4 linked regions of the Homo sapiens genome follow. The protein of the gene in region 4 purifies or fractionates together with the protein of the main gene of each other region. This does not show direct contact. Each region holds a gene or a part of one and is shown on either strand. Other genes may lie near its edges.

Evidence for each region.
Region 1: the proteins of WFDC2 (region 4) and ACYP2 purify together in Homo sapiens (co-immunoprecipitation; one study listed by IntAct). This does not show direct contact.
Region 2: the proteins of WFDC2 (region 4) and MMP2 purify together in Homo sapiens (co-immunoprecipitation; one large-scale study listed by IntAct). This does not show direct contact.
Region 3: the proteins of WFDC2 (region 4) and WDR81 purify together in Homo sapiens (affinity purification with mass spectrometry; 2 studies listed by BioGRID and IntAct, with this or other methods). This does not show direct contact.

What each region holds. Positions count from the first base shown.
Region 1 is NC_000002.12:54,118,181-54,122,606, forward strand, and holds part of ACYP2 (acylphosphatase-2), read left to right. Parts: intron 1-4,426. UniProt on the Homo sapiens protein: Its physiological role is not yet clear.
Region 2 is NC_000016.10:55,503,198-55,507,191, forward strand, and holds the end of MMP2 (72 kDa type IV collagenase isoform 1 preproprotein), read left to right. Parts: intron 1-2,141; coding exon 2,142-2,245; 3' UTR 2,246-3,494; downstream 3,495-3,994.
Region 3 is NC_000017.11:1,730,778-1,735,203, forward strand, and holds part of WDR81 (WD repeat-containing protein 81), read left to right. Parts: coding exon 1-168; intron 169-290; coding exon 291-481; intron 482-1,547; coding exon 1,548-1,713; intron 1,714-1,888; coding exon 1,889-2,054; intron 2,055-2,749; coding exon 2,750-3,439; coding exon of another isoform or gene 3,440-3,453; intron 3,454-4,426. UniProt on the Homo sapiens protein: Functions as a negative regulator of the PI3 kinase/PI3K activity associated with endosomal membranes via BECN1, a core subunit of the PI3K complex.
Region 4 is NC_000020.11:45,475,327-45,479,752, reverse strand, and holds part of WFDC2 (WAP four-disulfide core domain protein 2 precursor), read right to left. Parts: intron 1-4,426.

The sequences.
Region 1 (4,426 bases), on a different chromosome or scaffold from region 4:
ATGCATGGATCTGTACTCTTTAGAAAGTCTTTGAGTGAACCCAGCGGTATGTTATCCTGCTTTGAAAACTGCCACAATAAGTCACCAAAACACGTAATGTAAAATACGAAAGTGGTGGCAAAGATCACCTGACAGAATGGTCCACTAGAGACAAATGGCAGTAGTGAAGGAGTCTGTGTGTGTGTGTGAATGTGTGACATTTATTATGGGTGTTCTTTGTGCTGAGCATTTCACTGTTGTTTACTTAATCATCACAATTTTGTGAGATGCATGTCTTATTCCTGTTTTAACAAGGACAAAACAGGTGCACAGAGATTCAGTAACTTGGACAAGCCCTTAGTTGACAAATGGGATTTGATTCTACATCTCTCTGACTTTAAAAGTTGTGCTTTCCCATTATAAGATGTTATCTGCTATTACATTATATATTTCTATTAACTATACAATTCCACTTTTGTGCACATAGTGGTAACACGGTATATAATCAATTTGGACCAGCAGTAAAAATATGGAAAAGAGAAACGTACTATACATAAATAGTGGGGTTTAAAAAGTCAACTTTAGGGCAATAATTCCTATAGTTTGCAGTATGCTAAATGGAAGAGAGTACATGCCCACTATTGATCAAGGCATAGTATGTAGTACAAACTCACCATCACATATTTACATACATCTACATTGACATTCCCTGACAATTTAGAATGTGCCAAGCTCTGTACTCAACATTTTACATATATTGTCTCATTTAATCCTCATCCCTGTAACTGCAATGGTTTTTCTCATTTAACAGATGGAGACATTGAGGCGTGGGGAAGTAACTTCTTTCCCAGTTATACACAAGTTAAGAAGTGGGATTTGAATCTTAGTAGTCTTTTTTTTTTTTTTTTTTTTTTTTTTTTTTTTAACAGGGTCTCATTATGTCACCCGGGCAAGATCATAGCTCACTGCAGCCTTGAGCTCCTGGGCTCATATGATCTTCCTGCCTCAGCCTCCTCTTGAGTAGTTGGGACTACAGGCATGAGTCACCATGCCCAGCTAACTTTTTAATTTTTCCTTGGTAGAGAGGGAGTCTCACTATGTTGACTAGGCTGGTTTTGAACTCCTGGCCTCAAGCAAGCCTCCCACCTCGGCCTCACAAAGTTCTGGCCTTATAAGCATGAGCCACTAGCCTGGGCAACAGAGTGAGACTGTCTCTAAAGAAACAATAAAATAAATAAAGTATGGAATAATAAAATTTTAGTGAAAACTGTCTTGTTAGAAATAATGGCTATGAAAGTAAATTCGCAATGGAAGAACCTATAATTGGGAACATTTATTATGGACAAAATACGGATTGATAAAGTCATCATTAAAATATTTGAGTGGAAACTATTCCCAGTGAAAATTGTTTCAATGACATGAAAGTGAACATGGAAAAAATGGAAAATGTTTTAACCCTCCTGTATGGAAAATTGATCAATGAATTAAATTGGCTTGCTTGAGTTTATTGCAGAAAACGTTTTCCAACCAAAAATGATGTGTTGTTAGTATAGGGACCGTACAACTGGTTTAAGCCAATATGGATACATTATTATGAACTAAAGTCCTTACTTTTTTCAAGGTTTCCTTAGTTTTTACCTAATGTCTTTTTTTTGGTTCCAGGATCCCATCCAGATACATTTAGCCCCCTTGCCTCCTCAGGCTCCTTGAGGCTGTGACATTCTGTTAGACTTACCTTGTTGTCGATGACGTTGGCAGTTTTAAGGAGTACTTTGAGGTCAAGTACTTTGTAGAATGCTCCCCAATTGGGATTTGTCTGATATTTTTGTTATGATAAGACTGGGATAATGGGGTATTGGAAGGAAGACCACAGAGGTGAAGTGCTGCTCTTGTCACACCTATCAAGGGTATATACTGTCAATCTGACTTATCACTGTTGATGTTAACCTTGATCACCTGGCTGTGATAGTGTTTGTCTGGTTTCTCCACTCTAAAGTTACTCTTTTTTTTCTCTCTCTCTTTTCATCCTGTACTTTAAAAAATCTTCACATTCTCAAGGAGCTCCACGTTTTTTCCCCATCAACTTCCCTTGCATCAAGGACTTTGGGAGAGGGTTAAGAGAGCTGGGGACTGAGCCCCTGTGCTTTTAGAGTGTTTGTAACTGTGGCCTGGTTTATAATGTTTCTATAGATGTTTAATTATATTTACATCTAGAATAATATAATCTGAAAATTTGAAAGGGAAATTGATTATGCTGTGTATAGATGCTTTGATGCTTTACCAGCTCTCAGGGGAATACTAATGACACTCCTAGAAATGCATTGTGACTATCTGTTGGTATACATGTGCTTAGAATTTTTTTTTGACTGAGTTTTTTTAGAATAAGAGTAGCTTATTTGACTACTGATGACACAGAATTCTTTCAGTGCCACTTTGCCAGCCAGAAATCTCCACGGCTAGTGGCACCTCTGCCCAGGCTTTGCTTGGGCCCACTGGGCTTACTCTGCCCACTTGGCCCAGCAGACTGCGCTCAGGCTGTGCTACTGGTCTGGATCCTGCGCTTGCCTTGGCTCTGTGGTCAGCCCGCAGCTGGTCCAGGGGTGCCGTGACCAACTTCTACCTTGGATGCTGGTGTCTGGATGAGGGGGATGTGGCAGTGCCCAATAACTTGGAGATGCCAGCAACCACAGAGCCCCAAGGTGTGTTACAGCTTTTGCTTGGGGAGTCCTGAGGCCTGAGCCTCCAGAAAGTGTTACACTGTCGTTCATTTCTGCTGTCTGCAGCTTCAGTGAATGGGAGCGTGTCACAACTCATTGGGTCCTGCTGCCTGCAGCTCAGCAAATGGGGGCATGTTGGCACACAATGGTTTTTTCACTCCTATAGCTCGGCGAGCATGAGCATATGTTACAGCTCTTTTTGCACCTGCCATTCGCTCTTGTCCCATGACCAAGAGGAATGAGGTACGCGGACACTGGAGAGTGAACAAGGCAGAGAAGAATTTTATTGACTGACAGAAAAGCTCTCGATAAAGAGAGGGGACCCGAAGTGGGTAGCCCTCTGTGTGAGAGGGGGCCTGAAAGTGGATAGCCATCTGTAAGGCTGAGTCTGGGGTTTTTATGGGCTCAGAATGGGGTGTATGCTAATTGTTCCATGGGTGGGCCTGGAAAAAGCACCATTCAGTTGGCTAAAAGGCATCGAGGAAGTTCTCACTCTGGTTGTGGACTCCACCTGGAACTGGCAACTCGGTTTCAGGTTTCACTTGAAGGTCTGGTTTCACCGGAGACCTGTCCCTGTCTACCGAGGAATTTGTCTGTTTCCTACTGCTATAACTGAGATGAATACCATATTTCTTAAATATTGCTTAAAATGAAAACTGGGATGAATTATTAAATGGCTTTGTCAGATAATGCATGATTTAGAAGTACACATTTTTCTTACATAGACAAGTAAATGGAAAAGCTGTGTTTTAGAGGTTGAAAATATTAAGTACCACCATTAAAGTCAAGAAACATAAATATGGTTAACTCTAATTCCCTCTCCTGTCTTTGTTCTTATAGTATTTTATTTATAGTAGTTATACTTTGTGTTTATCCTTTTAATCATTCTGCTTTCAGCTACAGTTATCTGTGTACACTTGTATGTGTCTCTCACTAGAAAATAATGACAGTATTTTGAAGGTCAGGCTGGTGGCTTGTTTTCATATCCCCTACACGGCTACGCCTCTAGTGGGTCCTTCAAAAGTGAACTGAATTAAATTGAAGTATTTGGGGATATCTGGCTTGGAGAAGAAATTGTAGTGTGATGGCTGTTTTAACTGTTTGAAAGATGCCGTGGTGTATGGCTCCAGGGAACAGAACCTGGACTGATGGTGAAAGGTTAAGTAAGGCAGAATTTTATTCCACATAAGGAAAGCTTTGTAACAATTAAAGATATTTACAGTCATTAAGGGCTGCTTTGTAAGGCAGCATATAGATCACTTCCTGCATTCAAAATTGACACATGCAGTCAGATCCCAGGATGAAATGGTAGGTTACAATATAAAAAATAGGATTTTACATGAAAAGGTGTTGACATTTAAAACTCATCACAGGTTTCTTTAAATATCAGTGTGTGTTTGTCAATTCAAAGTATGATTTACTTTGCAAACATTCCTCTCAGGGTTTCTCACTGACACCTCTTTCCACAAAGTGAGGTACAGTTGTAGTGGACTGGACCTTGACTGAGCAGCATATCGTGCTGGAGTCTTTTATCACCAAAAGGGCTGATGTCTGCCCCAGTTTCCAGAGCAGAGTGTCTGTAAAAAACCTGCATGTGTCATATCAGCTTTCCTTCTCTTCAGCAAGTGAGGTGGAAAAAGTATGGGGAGGCCACGAAAGCCCATAGATAAATCTCCTACAGAAGCCCTGTCCCAAGAGGGCTGTGTTCCAGCCAACACTGATAAAGTGCA
Region 2 (3,994 bases), on a different chromosome or scaffold from region 4:
TGGGGTTTGATCCAGGCCCATTTGCGTTTTGCAGGAGGCCTGTGACCACCTCCCATTAGCAGAAGGATGGCTCCATTTGAGACAAGGCAAACTTTGTCATGCTCTGTTGCTCATGTGGCAAAGATCCTCCACTCAACCAGTTTGCCCCTGGCCCCCTGCTGATTAAAACACAACCAGTAGCAGCGAGGGATAGAATTTGGAGTTTGAAAATCATACTCTTGAGGAGGCATCTGTGAGCTTTCTAGGGTCCTGGAAATGGGTCCAGTTTGGCTTTTTTTAGAGGAGATTTCAACTAAATTCCACAGATTTTTTTTTTTTTGAGCACCTACTGTATGCTAAGCACAGGCCCTGACCTCCAGTAGCTGAAGGTCTTACATGTCCAAGAAAATGCAGTGTACAATCAGATGCTAGATTAGGAGTTATCTTCAAGAATAAACATCTATTGAGCACCTACTACATGCTAGCATATTAATAGTAAATGAGATTATGTATGTCAGGAGTCACAAACTCCAACAGCTCCATGTGTCAGGCAGGTAGCACAAATGAGTAAAGCAGGCAGGGGCAGACAGTGGGGAACTGTGGAGTCTGTGCGGAATCAGAGCACATGCCTCATTTACAGGAGACACTTTCTTCTCACCTTCAGATAATTATTGGCGGGCAAGATTAGGGGCCTAGGCAGCTGCCATGGTTCACACCTGTCATCCCAGCACTCTGGGAGGCCAAGGCAGGAGAACTGCTTGAGCGCAGGAGTTTGAGACCAGCCTGGGCAACATAGTGAGACTCTATCTCTACAAAAAAATTTTAAAAAACATTAGCTACACATGACGGCGCATACCTGTAGTCCCAGCTACTGGGGAGGGTGAGCAGAGAGGATCGCTTGAGCCCAGGAGTTTAAGGCTGCAGTGAGCCGTGTTCATGCCGCTGCATTCCAGACTGGGTGACAGAGTGAGACCTGGTCTCAAAAAAAAAGAATGGGGCCTGGTGTTGTTAGATATTCTATATTAGATATTCTAGTTTTTTTAAAGGAAGCCAGAAATCTGTACTTCTGTGTGACTTTTTGGATGTTTACATGTTGGCAAGTTATTCAGATTTAAAGACAAAACAAAACAAACTTGTGAGAGTCAAATAAAACCCATCTGTGGGCCTGACAGGACTGGATATATCCTGTTTTGCCACCTCTGGTACATGGAATGTGCTTAGTTTGATGCTTGTGTTAAGTGGAGTTATTGTTTTTAATAATAGCATATGTTATCTGACTTAATGCTCACTGCAAGCCCTAGAAGGTTGATAATCTTTATCCTCATCTTAGAGATGAGCAAACAGGGAATAAAAGAGCTTATTTCACAGCCATTTCCCTTCTTCCACTCCCAGAGGGGGCTCTTCTGGGCTTTTGTTGTGTTTTGGTTTTGTTTTTGTTTTCTTTTCTTCAATCAGCTCAGATTGAAACAATTGAATTTTTTTTTTTTTTTTTTTGAGACAGAGTCTCCCTCTGTCGCCCAGGCTGGAGTGCAGTGGCGCGATCTTGGCTCACTGCAAGCTCCGCCTACTGGGTTCACACCATTCTCCTGCCTCAGCCTCCCGAGTAGCTGGGACTACAGGCGCCTACCACCACGCCCGGCTAATTTTTTGTATTTTTAGTAGAGACGAGGTTTCACCATGTTAGCCAGGATGGTCTTGATCTCCTGACTTCGTGATCTGCCCGTCTCGGCCTCCCAAAGTGCTGGGATTACAGGCGTGAGCCACCGCGCCCCGCCACAGTTGAGTTTTTTTTTTGGCGGGGGGACAAGGTCTTGCTCTATCACCCAGGCTAGAGGCACAATCATAGCTCACTGCAGCCTCGAACTCCTGGGCTTAAGCGACCCTCCCACGTCAGCCTCCTAAGTAGCTTGGACTACAGGAATGTACCACTATACCCAGCTAATTTAAATATGTTTTTCGTAGAAATGGGGGTCTCTCTATGCTGCCCAAGCTGGTCTCGAACTCCTGGGCTCAAGCAATCCTCCTGCCTCAGCCTTTCAAAGCTCTCTTCTCGTTTAAAAGCTTCTTCCCTATGCCAGGCAGAAATTCAAAGTTCCCAGGAACCTTCTGTGTGCCAGAATGTCAGGATAAGGGGGTCACGGTCTCTTCTTTCTCTATCCCAGGTCACAGCTACTTCTTCAAGGGTGCCTATTACCTGAAGCTGGAGAACCAAAGTCTGAAGAGCGTGAAGTTTGGAAGCATCAAATCCGACTGGCTAGGCTGCTGAGCTGGCCCTGGCTCCCACAGGCCCTTCCTCTCCACTGCCTTCGATACACCGGGCCTGGAGAACTAGAGAAGGACCCGGAGGGGCCTGGCAGCCGTGCCTTCAGCTCTACAGCTAATCAGCATTCTCACTCCTACCTGGTAATTTAAGATTCCAGAGAGTGGCTCCTCCCGGTGCCCAAGAATAGATGCTGACTGTACTCCTCCCAGGCGCCCCTTCCCCCTCCAATCCCACCAACCCTCAGAGCCACCCCTAAAGAGATACTTTGATATTTTCAACGCAGCCCTGCTTTGGGCTGCCCTGGTGCTGCCACACTTCAGGCTCTTCTCCTTTCACAACCTTCTGTGGCTCACAGAACCCTTGGAGCCAATGGAGACTGTCTCAAGAGGGCACTGGTGGCCCGACAGCCTGGCACAGGGCAGTGGGACAGGGCATGGCCAGGTGGCCACTCCAGACCCCTGGCTTTTCACTGCTGGCTGCCTTAGAACCTTTCTTACATTAGCAGTTTGCTTTGTATGCACTTTGTTTTTTTCTTTGGGTCTTGTTTTTTTTTTCCACTTAGAAATTGCATTTCCTGACAGAAGGACTCAGGTTGTCTGAAGTCACTGCACAGTGCATCTCAGCCCACATAGTGATGGTTCCCCTGTTCACTCTACTTAGCATGTCCCTACCGAGTCTCTTCTCCACTGGATGGAGGAAAACCAAGCCGTGGCTTCCCGCTCAGCCCTCCCTGCCCCTCCCTTCAACCATTCCCCATGGGAAATGTCAACAAGTATGAATAAAGACACCTACTGAGTGGCCGTGTTTGCCATCTGTTTTAGCAGAGCCTAGACAAGGGCCACAGACCCAGCCAGAAGCGGAAACTTAAAAAGTCCGAATCTCTGCTCCCTGCAGGGCACAGGTGATGGTGTCTGCTGGAAAGGTCAGAGCTTCCAAAGTAAACAGCAAGAGAACCTCAGGGAGAGTAAGCTCTAGTCCCTCTGTCCTGTAGAAAGAGCCCTGAAGAATCAGCAATTTTGTTGCTTTATTGTGGCATCTGTTCGAGGTTTGCTTCCTCTTTAAGTCTGTTTCTTCATTAGCAATCATATCAGTTTTAATGCTACTACTAACAATGAACAGTAACAATAATATCCCCCTCAATTAATAGAGTGCTTTCTATGTGCAAGGCACTTTTCACGTGTCACCTATTTTAACCTTTCCAACCACATAAATAAAAAAGGCCATTATTAGTTGAATCTTATTGATGAAGAGACTGATGGCTCAAGAGAAGTGATTTTTCCAGGGTCCCATAGCTATTAGGGACCTACAAGGCCAAAGGATAGCCTAGCAGAGGAGCTTTAGCTCTCAAACCAGAATCTCACCACCCTCCGCCACCCTCAAAAACACCCCCACCACCTTCAAAACCGCTCCTGCTACCCTCCACCACCCCCAAAACCACGCTGGGTAAACACAGCTAAGGGAGAAATACTGTGCTTGCTTCTAAACACAGCTGGTATTAATGGATAAGCTCCTTACTCCTTCCTACCAGTCTACCCACTCCTAATCTCCTACATAGAAATTCTGGAGCTACTGCTGAACAGAAATTGAAGGCCTGGGGTTTTTCTGAGGCCCTTTCTGGCTCCGATAGTCTGATTGATAGTATATATATTGCTTCTGGCCTCTTATGATGGGGCTGGTGAGGAAGGTGCGTAAGGAGTGAACTCTACAGGTGACCTCCTCAGTGAGCCTGATGTCATTGTTTCTATCTCTTTT
Region 3 (4,426 bases), on a different chromosome or scaffold from region 4:
GTGAGCAGTGGCGAGAGCCCACCGCTGAGCGCCGGCAACATCTACCAGAAGAGGCCGGTCCTGGGCGACATCGTGTCAGGGCCTGTGCTCAGCTGCCTCCTCCACATCGCCCGCCTGTATGGGGAGCCTGTCCTCACCTACCAGTACCTGCCCTACATCAGCTACCTGGTCAGTCGCTGGTTTGGCAGGCCCGGGGCTGGGAAGGCTGAGGACCTGAGGGCCGGCCCGGGCTCTCTTGGTGCCAGGGGGTCTGTGGGGCTGCCCGGCCCTCATCTGCTCGGTGGCTCTAGGTGGCCCCAGGGAGTGCCTCAGGCCCCAGCCGACTGAACAGCCGTAAGGAGGCGGGGCTGCTGGCCGCGGTGACGCTGACTCAGAAGATCATCGTGTACCTCTCAGACACCACACTCATGGACATCCTGCCCCGGATCAGCCATGAGGTCCTGCTGCCCGTGCTCAGCTTCCTCACCTCCCTCGTCACGGGGTAGGCCTCTGCCCCAGCTGATGTAGGGGGACCGGCCCAGCGGAGGGGCTGCCCAGGAGGGGGTGGGAAGCTCAGGGGAGAGGACGTAACACTGGACTGGGTGTCAAGAGTCCTGGTTTTGATCCCGGCTGTGTGACCCTGAGCAAACCACACCCTTTTCCTGTGCCTCAGTTTCCTCATCTGGTTTGGACCAGTTGGTCTTGGAGCTCTTTCATTTAAAGCTTTTGATATGTCCGGGCACGGTGGCTCATGCCTGTAATCCCAGCACTTTGAGAGGCTGAGGCGGGAAGATTGCTTGAGCCCAGGAGTTCAAGACCAGCCTGGGCAACAAAATGAGACCCCCTCTCTAAAAATATATATAAAGGCCGAGCGTGGTGTCTCACCCCTGTAATCCCAGCACTTTGGGGGGCCAAGGCGGGTGGATCACGAGGTCAGGAGTTTGAGACCCACCTGGCCAACATGGTGAAACCCCGTCTCCACTAAAAATACAAAATCTTCGCTGGGCATGGCAGCAGGTGCCTGCAATCCCAGGTTCTCGGGAGGCTGCAATCCCAGGTTCTCAGGAGGCTGAGGCGGGAGAATTGCTTGAACCCAGGAAGCGGAGGTTGCAGTGAGCTGAGATCACGCCATTGTACTGCAGCCTAGGCGACAGAGCAAGACTCTGTCTCAAAAAAAAAAAAAAGTATATATATATGCTGGGTGCTGTGGCTCATGCCTGTAATCCCAGCACTTTGGGAGGCCAAGGTGGGTGGATCGCTTGAGGTCAGGAGTTCGAGACCAGCCTGGCCAATATGGCAAAACCCTGTCTCTACTAAAAATACAAAAAAAATTAGCCGGGTATGGTGGCTCATGCCTGTAGTCCCAGCTACTCGGGAGACTGAGGCAGGAGAATCGCTTGAACCCGGGAGGCAGAGGTTGCAGTGAGCCGAGATCGCACCACTGCACTCCAGCCTGGATGACAGAGCAAGACTCCATCTCAATAAAAATAAAAATAAATAAAGATTTTGCTAGATTCTGGTCAAGTCCTGCAGAACGGCGGGCTGGAGCTCATGAGCTCTGTTTCCAGGTTCCCAAGTGGGGCCCAGGCTCGGACCATCCTGTGTGTGAAAACCATCAGCCTCATCGCCCTCATCTGCCTGCGCATTGGACAGGAGATGGTCCAGCAGCACCTGAGCGAGCCCGTGGCCACCTTTTTCCAGGTCTTCTCTCAGCTGCATGAGCTTCGGCAACAGGTGGGCAGATCTGCTGGGCCAGGGCGGGCTGGGGCGGGGGCTGTGGACCTGGGTGACCCCCTGGGCATCTTGCTCATAGGATCTGAAGCTGGACTCCGCGGGCCGTGGCGAGGACCAGGGTGGGCCAGGGTGGGAGCTGTGGACCCGGCTGACCCCCTGGGTGTCTTGCTCATAGGATCTGAAGCTGGACCCTGCGGGCCGTGGTGAGGGCCAGCTGCCACAGGTGGTCTTCTCTGATGGGCAGCAGCGGCCCGTGGACCCCGCCCTGCTGGACGAGCTGCAGAAGGTGTTCACCCTGGAGATGGCATACACAATCTACGTGCCCTTCTCCTGCCTGTTGGGTACTGCCCCATCACGTTCCCCATCACAGTCTTCGTGGCTGTCTCCTCCCTTGGGAGGCCCCATTCTCTGCCCTTGCCCCAGAGTCAGCAGTGGGTTCTAAGAGCCAGCAGGATGGGTGAGAGCAAAGGGATTTGGCCTCAGACCCCTACCCCCAAGGTGACACACAAACAAGGACTGAGCAGTAGCCAGCAAGAGAGGCCCAGAAGCTGGCCTGTAGTGTCCCTGGGGAAGGCAGGAGAGTCAGGGAGGTGGACTGGCGGTCCGCAGGAGCTGGCGAGAGGGAAGGAGTGGCCTCCTGTTTACGAAGCTTCCCCTCTGGGCCCTGCACGGTGCTGTGCTGATCGTTTCAGCGTGTCATCTCCCTGGAGAGGACAGACAGCCTTGTGGTTACACCTGTTATCATCCTGCCACTGAAATCTAAGCTTGGGAGGCCAGGGCACCACCTGTCTTGTTCCATATTCTATTCCTAGTGCCCAGCACGGCACGGCACATATAGAAGATGCTCATGTGTACATCACAACGGAATGAATCCACATTTCACTGAGGAGGAAACTGAGGCTCAGAGACAGAGTTACTTGCCCAGAGTTGCAGAGCCAGTTCCTGCCCCATCTTCTGTGGCTCCCGAGTCCTTGGATGGGTGATAGCAGCCGCCTGCCATCTTCCCTGTCTCAGGACCTCTCCCACTCCTATCCAGGTGACATCATCCGGAAAATCATCCCCAACCACGAGCTGGTTGGGGAGCTGGCGGCGCTGTACTTGGAGAGCATCAGCCCCAGCAGTCGCAACCCTGCCAGCGTGGAGCCCACCATGCCCGGCACCGGGCCCGAGTGGGACCCCCATGGTGGGGGCTGCCCTCAGGATGACGGCCACTCAGGGACCTTTGGGAGCGTCCTGGTGGGGAACCGCATTCAGATCCCCAATGACTCTCGGCCTGAGAACCCCGGACCACTGGGCCCCATCTCGGGGGTGGGTGGCGGGGGCCTGGGCAGCGGGAGCGACGACAACGCCCTGAAGCAGGAGCTGCCGCGGAGCGTGCACGGGCTGAGCGGAAACTGGCTGGCGTACTGGCAGTACGAGATCGGCGTGAGCCAGCAGGATGCCCACTTTCACTTCCACCAGATCCGCCTGCAGAGCTTCCCGGGCCACTCGGGGGCCGTCAAGTGCGTGGCACCCCTAAGCAGCGAGGACTTCTTCCTGAGCGGCAGCAAGGATCGTACCGTGCGCCTCTGGCCGCTGTACAACTACGGCGACGGGACCAGCGAGACGGCCCCACGCCTCGTCTACACCCAGCACCGCAAGAGCGTCTTCTTCGTGGGCCAGCTTGAGGCCCCGCAGCACGTGGTGAGCTGTGACGGGGCTGTGCACGTCTGGGACCCCTTCACAGGTGAGCGGGCCCAGGTGAGGCCTGTTCTCTTCCTGCTCCTGCGCCCCACCAGGCCTCCAGGAAGGGGGCCCGAGGGTGGGGCTGTAATGCTGCGGAGTTTGGGGAGACCCAGCGAGGCCGCCTAGGAGAACAGTTAGGGCTTCGAATCTGTTAGACTTGAGTCTGAATTGGCTCCACCGGCTTACTTGCTGAGTGACCTTGAGCAAGTTCCTGCTGCTGGAAGCGTCTCCTTTCCCATCTATAAACTGAGAATCAGAAAAACTGGCGTAGAAGATAACACACAGCCGGGCGCAGTGGCTCACGCCTGTAATCCCAGCACTTTGGGAGGCTGAGGCGGGTGGATCACGAGGTCAGGAGATCGAGATCATCCTGGCTAACATGGTGAAACCCCGTCTCTACTAAAAATACAAAAATTAGCCGGGCGTGGTGGCGGGTGCCTGTACTCCCAACTACACAGGAGGCTGAGGCAGGAGAATCTCTCAAACTCAGGTGGCAGAGGTTGCCGTGAGCCGAGATCGCACCACTGCACTCCAGCCCGGGCAACAGAGCGAGACTCTGTCTCAAAAAAAAAAAAAAGAAGAAGATAACACATGTAGGGTTTTGGCTTCATGTGTAGCAGATATTTGGTCAATGGTTGCTTATTTTTTGGCGTCACCATAGGGAGAAATATGGTTAAAAGGGGGAAAGGGATGGTGTCGGGGAAGACAGAGGGAGGTGGCATTGGGTCAGCAGCACTGTGCAGAGAGAGGAGGTTGCTTTGGGGATGGGAGCCTGGCCGGGCCATGGAAGCAGGAAGGTGGGAGAGTCAAGAAACATCTTTAGGCCGATGCAGTGGCTCACGCCTGTAATCTCAGCACTCTGGGAGGCCAGGAGTTGGAGACCAGACTGGCTGACATGGTGAAACCCCATCTCTACTAAGAATACAAAAAAAGGCCGGACGCGGTGGCTCACGCCTGTAATCCCAGCACTTTGGGAGGCCAAAGTGGG
Region 4 (4,426 bases):
TGCTCCCAAATGGAATCACAGGACCTCAGCTTGAGTCCCAAGTGGGCCTTCGTGGCCTAGGGCCAGAAATCTCCCAGAGCCTCCGTGTCTTTAGGTGCCAGTGGAACAGTGCTAATTACAACATAGGGTTGTTGTGAAAGCAGTGGGAAACAAACATATATTATTTCTCCCTGAAATATCAAACTACTCTGTAGTTATGAGAAATTATAACAGTGAACACTTAATTAGCTCTTATTACATGCCAGGTATCAAGCCCCTAACATATATTAACTCTTCTAATTCTCACAATAATCCTAAAAGAAGGGGAGGGATCTGTTAATATTTCCTTGTGTTACAAGTGAGGAAACTGAGGCACTGAGAAGTTAAGTAATTTGCCTAAGGTCACACAGAATTGAGGCAGAATTTGAACCCCAAGAAATCTAGCTGCAGAGTCTATGTGTTAACTGCTGCTGCCATGGTTAAGCACTATGCTGCCACTTAAAGTGTAAAGTACAGTACACATGTGAGGGGTTACACACTTATAATCTTCACTCATACCCACAGACCGAATCCCAGTTGCAGTCTCTCAGCACCATGACCCTCCAAATACACTCATTCATCCATGCAGAGAGAAACCACACGTCCTTCCACTAACAAACACACACACAATCACACTCCACTTCCCAGGTTAGATAGAGGGGAGCCAGGCCCAGCCAAATCCATTCATCAACTGAGGTACATCATGGTTGCTTCCAACTTTTGGCAATTATAAATAAAGCTGCTATAAATATGTGCAGGTTTTTGTGTGTAAAACACAGGCACAGAACTGGGTGATTAGCTGTAGAGGACAAGGAAAGTGGCTGACAGATCACCGGGTGCAGTGGCTCATGCCTGTAATCCCACACTTTGGGAGGCTCAGGCGGGTGGGATCATCGGAGGTCAGGACTCGAGACCCCCCGCTCTACTAAAAATACAAAAAAGTTAACTGGGCGTGGTGGCATGCACCGGTAATCCCAGCTACTTGGGAGGCTGAGGCAGGAGAATCGCTTGCACCTGGGAGACAGAGGTTGTAGTGAGCTGAGATCATGCCACTGCACTCCAGCCTGGGCGACAGAGCGAGACTCCATCTCAAAAAAAAAAAAGATTTAGGTTCAGCTTTCAAGATGGCCGAATAGTAACAGCTCCAGTCTGCAGCTCCCAGTGAATCAATGCAGAAGGCAGGTGATTTCTGCATTTTCAAATGAGGTACGTGGCTCATCTCATTGGGACTGGTTAGACAGTGGGTGCAGCCCACGGAGGGCGAGCAGAAGTAGGGTAGGGCATCATCTCACCTGGGAAGCACAAGAGGTCAGGGAACTCCCTCCCCTAGCCAAGGGAAGCCATGAGGGACTGTGCCGTGAGGAATAGTGCACTCTGGAGCAGATACTACACTTTTCCCACGGTCTTCACAACCCACAGACCAAGAGATTCCTTTGGGTGCCTACACCACCAGGGCCCTGGGTTTCAAGCACAAAACTAGGTGGCCATTTGGGCAGACACTGAGCTAGCTGCAGGATTTTTTTTTCATACCCCAGTGGTGCCTGGAATGCCAGTGAGACAGAACCATTCACGCCCCTGGAAAGGGGGCTGAAGCTAGGGAGACAAGTGGTCTAGCTCAGCGGATCCCACCCCCATGGAGCCCAGCAAGCTAACATCCACTGGCTTGAAATTCTCACTGCCAGCACAGCAGTCTGAAGTTGACCTGGAACTCTCAAGCTTGGTAGGGGGAGGGGCGTCCACCATTACTGAGGCTTGAGTAGGCAGTTTTCCCCTCACAGAGTAAACAAAGCCACCAGGAAGTTCAAACTGGGCAGAGCCCAACACAGCTCGGCAAAGCCGCTGTAGCCAGACTGCCTCTCTAGATTCCTCCTCTCTGGGCAGGGCATCTCTGAAAAAAAGGCAGCAGCCCTAGTCAGGGGCTTATAGGTAAAACTCCCATCTCCCTGGGACAGAGCACCTGGGGGAAGGGGCAGCTGTGGATGTGGCTTCAGCCTGCCTGCCGGTTCTGAAGAGAGCAGCAGATCTCCCAGCACAGCATTTGAGCTCTGCTAAGGGTCAGACTGCCTCCTCAAGTGAGTCCCTGATTTCCGTGTCTCCTGACTGGGAGACACCTTCCAGCAGGGGCTGACAGACACCTCATACAGGAGAGCTCTGGCTGGCATCTGGCGGGTGCCCCTCTGGGACAAAGCTTCTAGAGGAAGGAACAGGCAGCAATCTTTGCTGTTCTGCAGCCTCTGCTGGTGATAGCCAGGCAAACAGGGTCTGGAGTGGACCTCCAGCAAACGCCAACAGACCTGCAGCTGAGGGGCCTGATTGTTAGAAGGAAAACTAACAGAAAGGAATAGCATCAACATCAACAAAAAGGACGTCCACTCAGAAGGCCCATCCAAAGATCATCAACATCAAAGACCAAAGGTAGATAAATCCACGAAGATGGGGAGAAACCAGCACAAAAAGGCTGAAAATTCCAAAAACCAGAACACCTCTTCTCCAAAGGATCACAATTCCTCGCCAGCAAGGGAACAAAACTGGACGGAGAATGAGTTTGACAAATTGACAGAAGTAGGCTTCAGAAGGTGGGTAATAACAAACTCCTCCAAGCTAAAGGAGCATGTTCTAACCCCAATGCAAGAAAGGTAAGAACCTTGAAAAAAGGTTATAGGAATTGCTAACTAGATTAACCAGTTTAGAGAAGAACATAAATGACCTGATGGAGCTGAAAAACACAGCACGAGAACGTCATGAAGCCTATACAAGTATCAATAGCCGAATTGATCAAGCAGAAGAAGGATATCAGAGATTGAAGATCAATTTAATGAAATAAAGAATGAAGATGAGATTAGAGAAAAAATAATGAAAAGGAATGAATGAACAAAGCCTCCAAAAAATATGGGACTATGTGAAAAGACCAAACCTATGTTTGATTGATGTACCTGAAAGTGATGGGGAGAATGGAACCAAGTTGGAAAACACTGTTCAGGATATTATACAGGAGAACTTCCCCAACCTAGCAAGAAAGGCCAACATTCAAATTCAGGAAATACAGAGAACACCTCAAAGATACTCCTTGAGAAGAATAACCCCAAGACACATAATCATCAGATTCACCAAGGTTGAAATGAAGAAAAAAATGTTAAGGGCACCCAGAGAGAAAGGTTGGGTTACCCACTATGGGAGGCCCTTCAGACTAACTGCAGATCTCTCTGCAGAAACCCTGCAAACCAGAAGACAGTGGGGGCCAATATTCAATATTCTTAAAGAATTTTCAACCCAGAATTTCATATCCAGCCAAAGTAAGCTTCATACATGAAGGAGAAATAAAATCCTTTATAGACAAACAAATGCTGAGGGATTTTTCTCATCAACAGGCCTGCCTTACAAGGTCTCCTGAAAGGAGCACTAAACATAGAAAGGAACAACTGGAATCAGCAACTGCAAAAACATACCAAATTGTAAAGACCATCGACACTATGAAGAAACTGCATCAACTAATAGACAAAATAACCAGCTAGCATCATAATGACAGGATCAAACTCACACATAACAATATTAACCTTAAATGTAAACAGGCTAAATGCCCCAGTTAAAAGACAAAGACTGGCAAATTGGATAAAGAGTCAAGACCCATTGGTGTGCTGTATTCAGGAGACCCATCTCAAGTGCAAAGACACATAGGCTCAAAATAAAGGGATAGAGGAATATTTACCAAGCAAATGGAAAGCAAAAAAAAATCAGGGGTTGCAATTCTATTCTCTGATAAAACAGACTTTAAACCAACAAAGATCAAAAGAGACAAAGAAGGGCATTACACAATGGTAAAGGGATCAATGCAACAAGAAGAGCTAATTATGCTAAATATATATGCACCTAATACAGGAGCACCCTGATTCATAAAGCAAGTTCTTAGAGACCTACAAAGAGACTTAGACTCCGACATAATAATAGTGGGAAACTTTAACCCCCACTGTCAATATTAGACAGATCAATGAGACGGAAAATTAACAAAGATATCCAAGACTTGAACTCAGCTCTGGACCAAGCAGACCTAATAGACATCTACAGAACTCTCCACCCCAAATCAACAGAATATACATTCTCCTCAGCACCACATCACACTTATTCTAAAACTGACCACATAATTGGAAGTAAAACACTAATTAGCAAATGCAAAAGAACGGAAATCCTAACAGTCTCTCAGACCACAGTGCCATCAAATTAGAATTCAGGATTAAGAAACTCACTCAAGACCGCATAACCTTACATGGAAACTGAACAACCTGCTCCTGAATGACTACTAGGTAAATAACAAAATCAAGGCAGAAATAAATAAGTTCTTTGAAACCAATGAGAACAAAGACATAACATACCAGAATCTCTGAGACACAGCTAAAGCAGTGCTTAGAAGGAA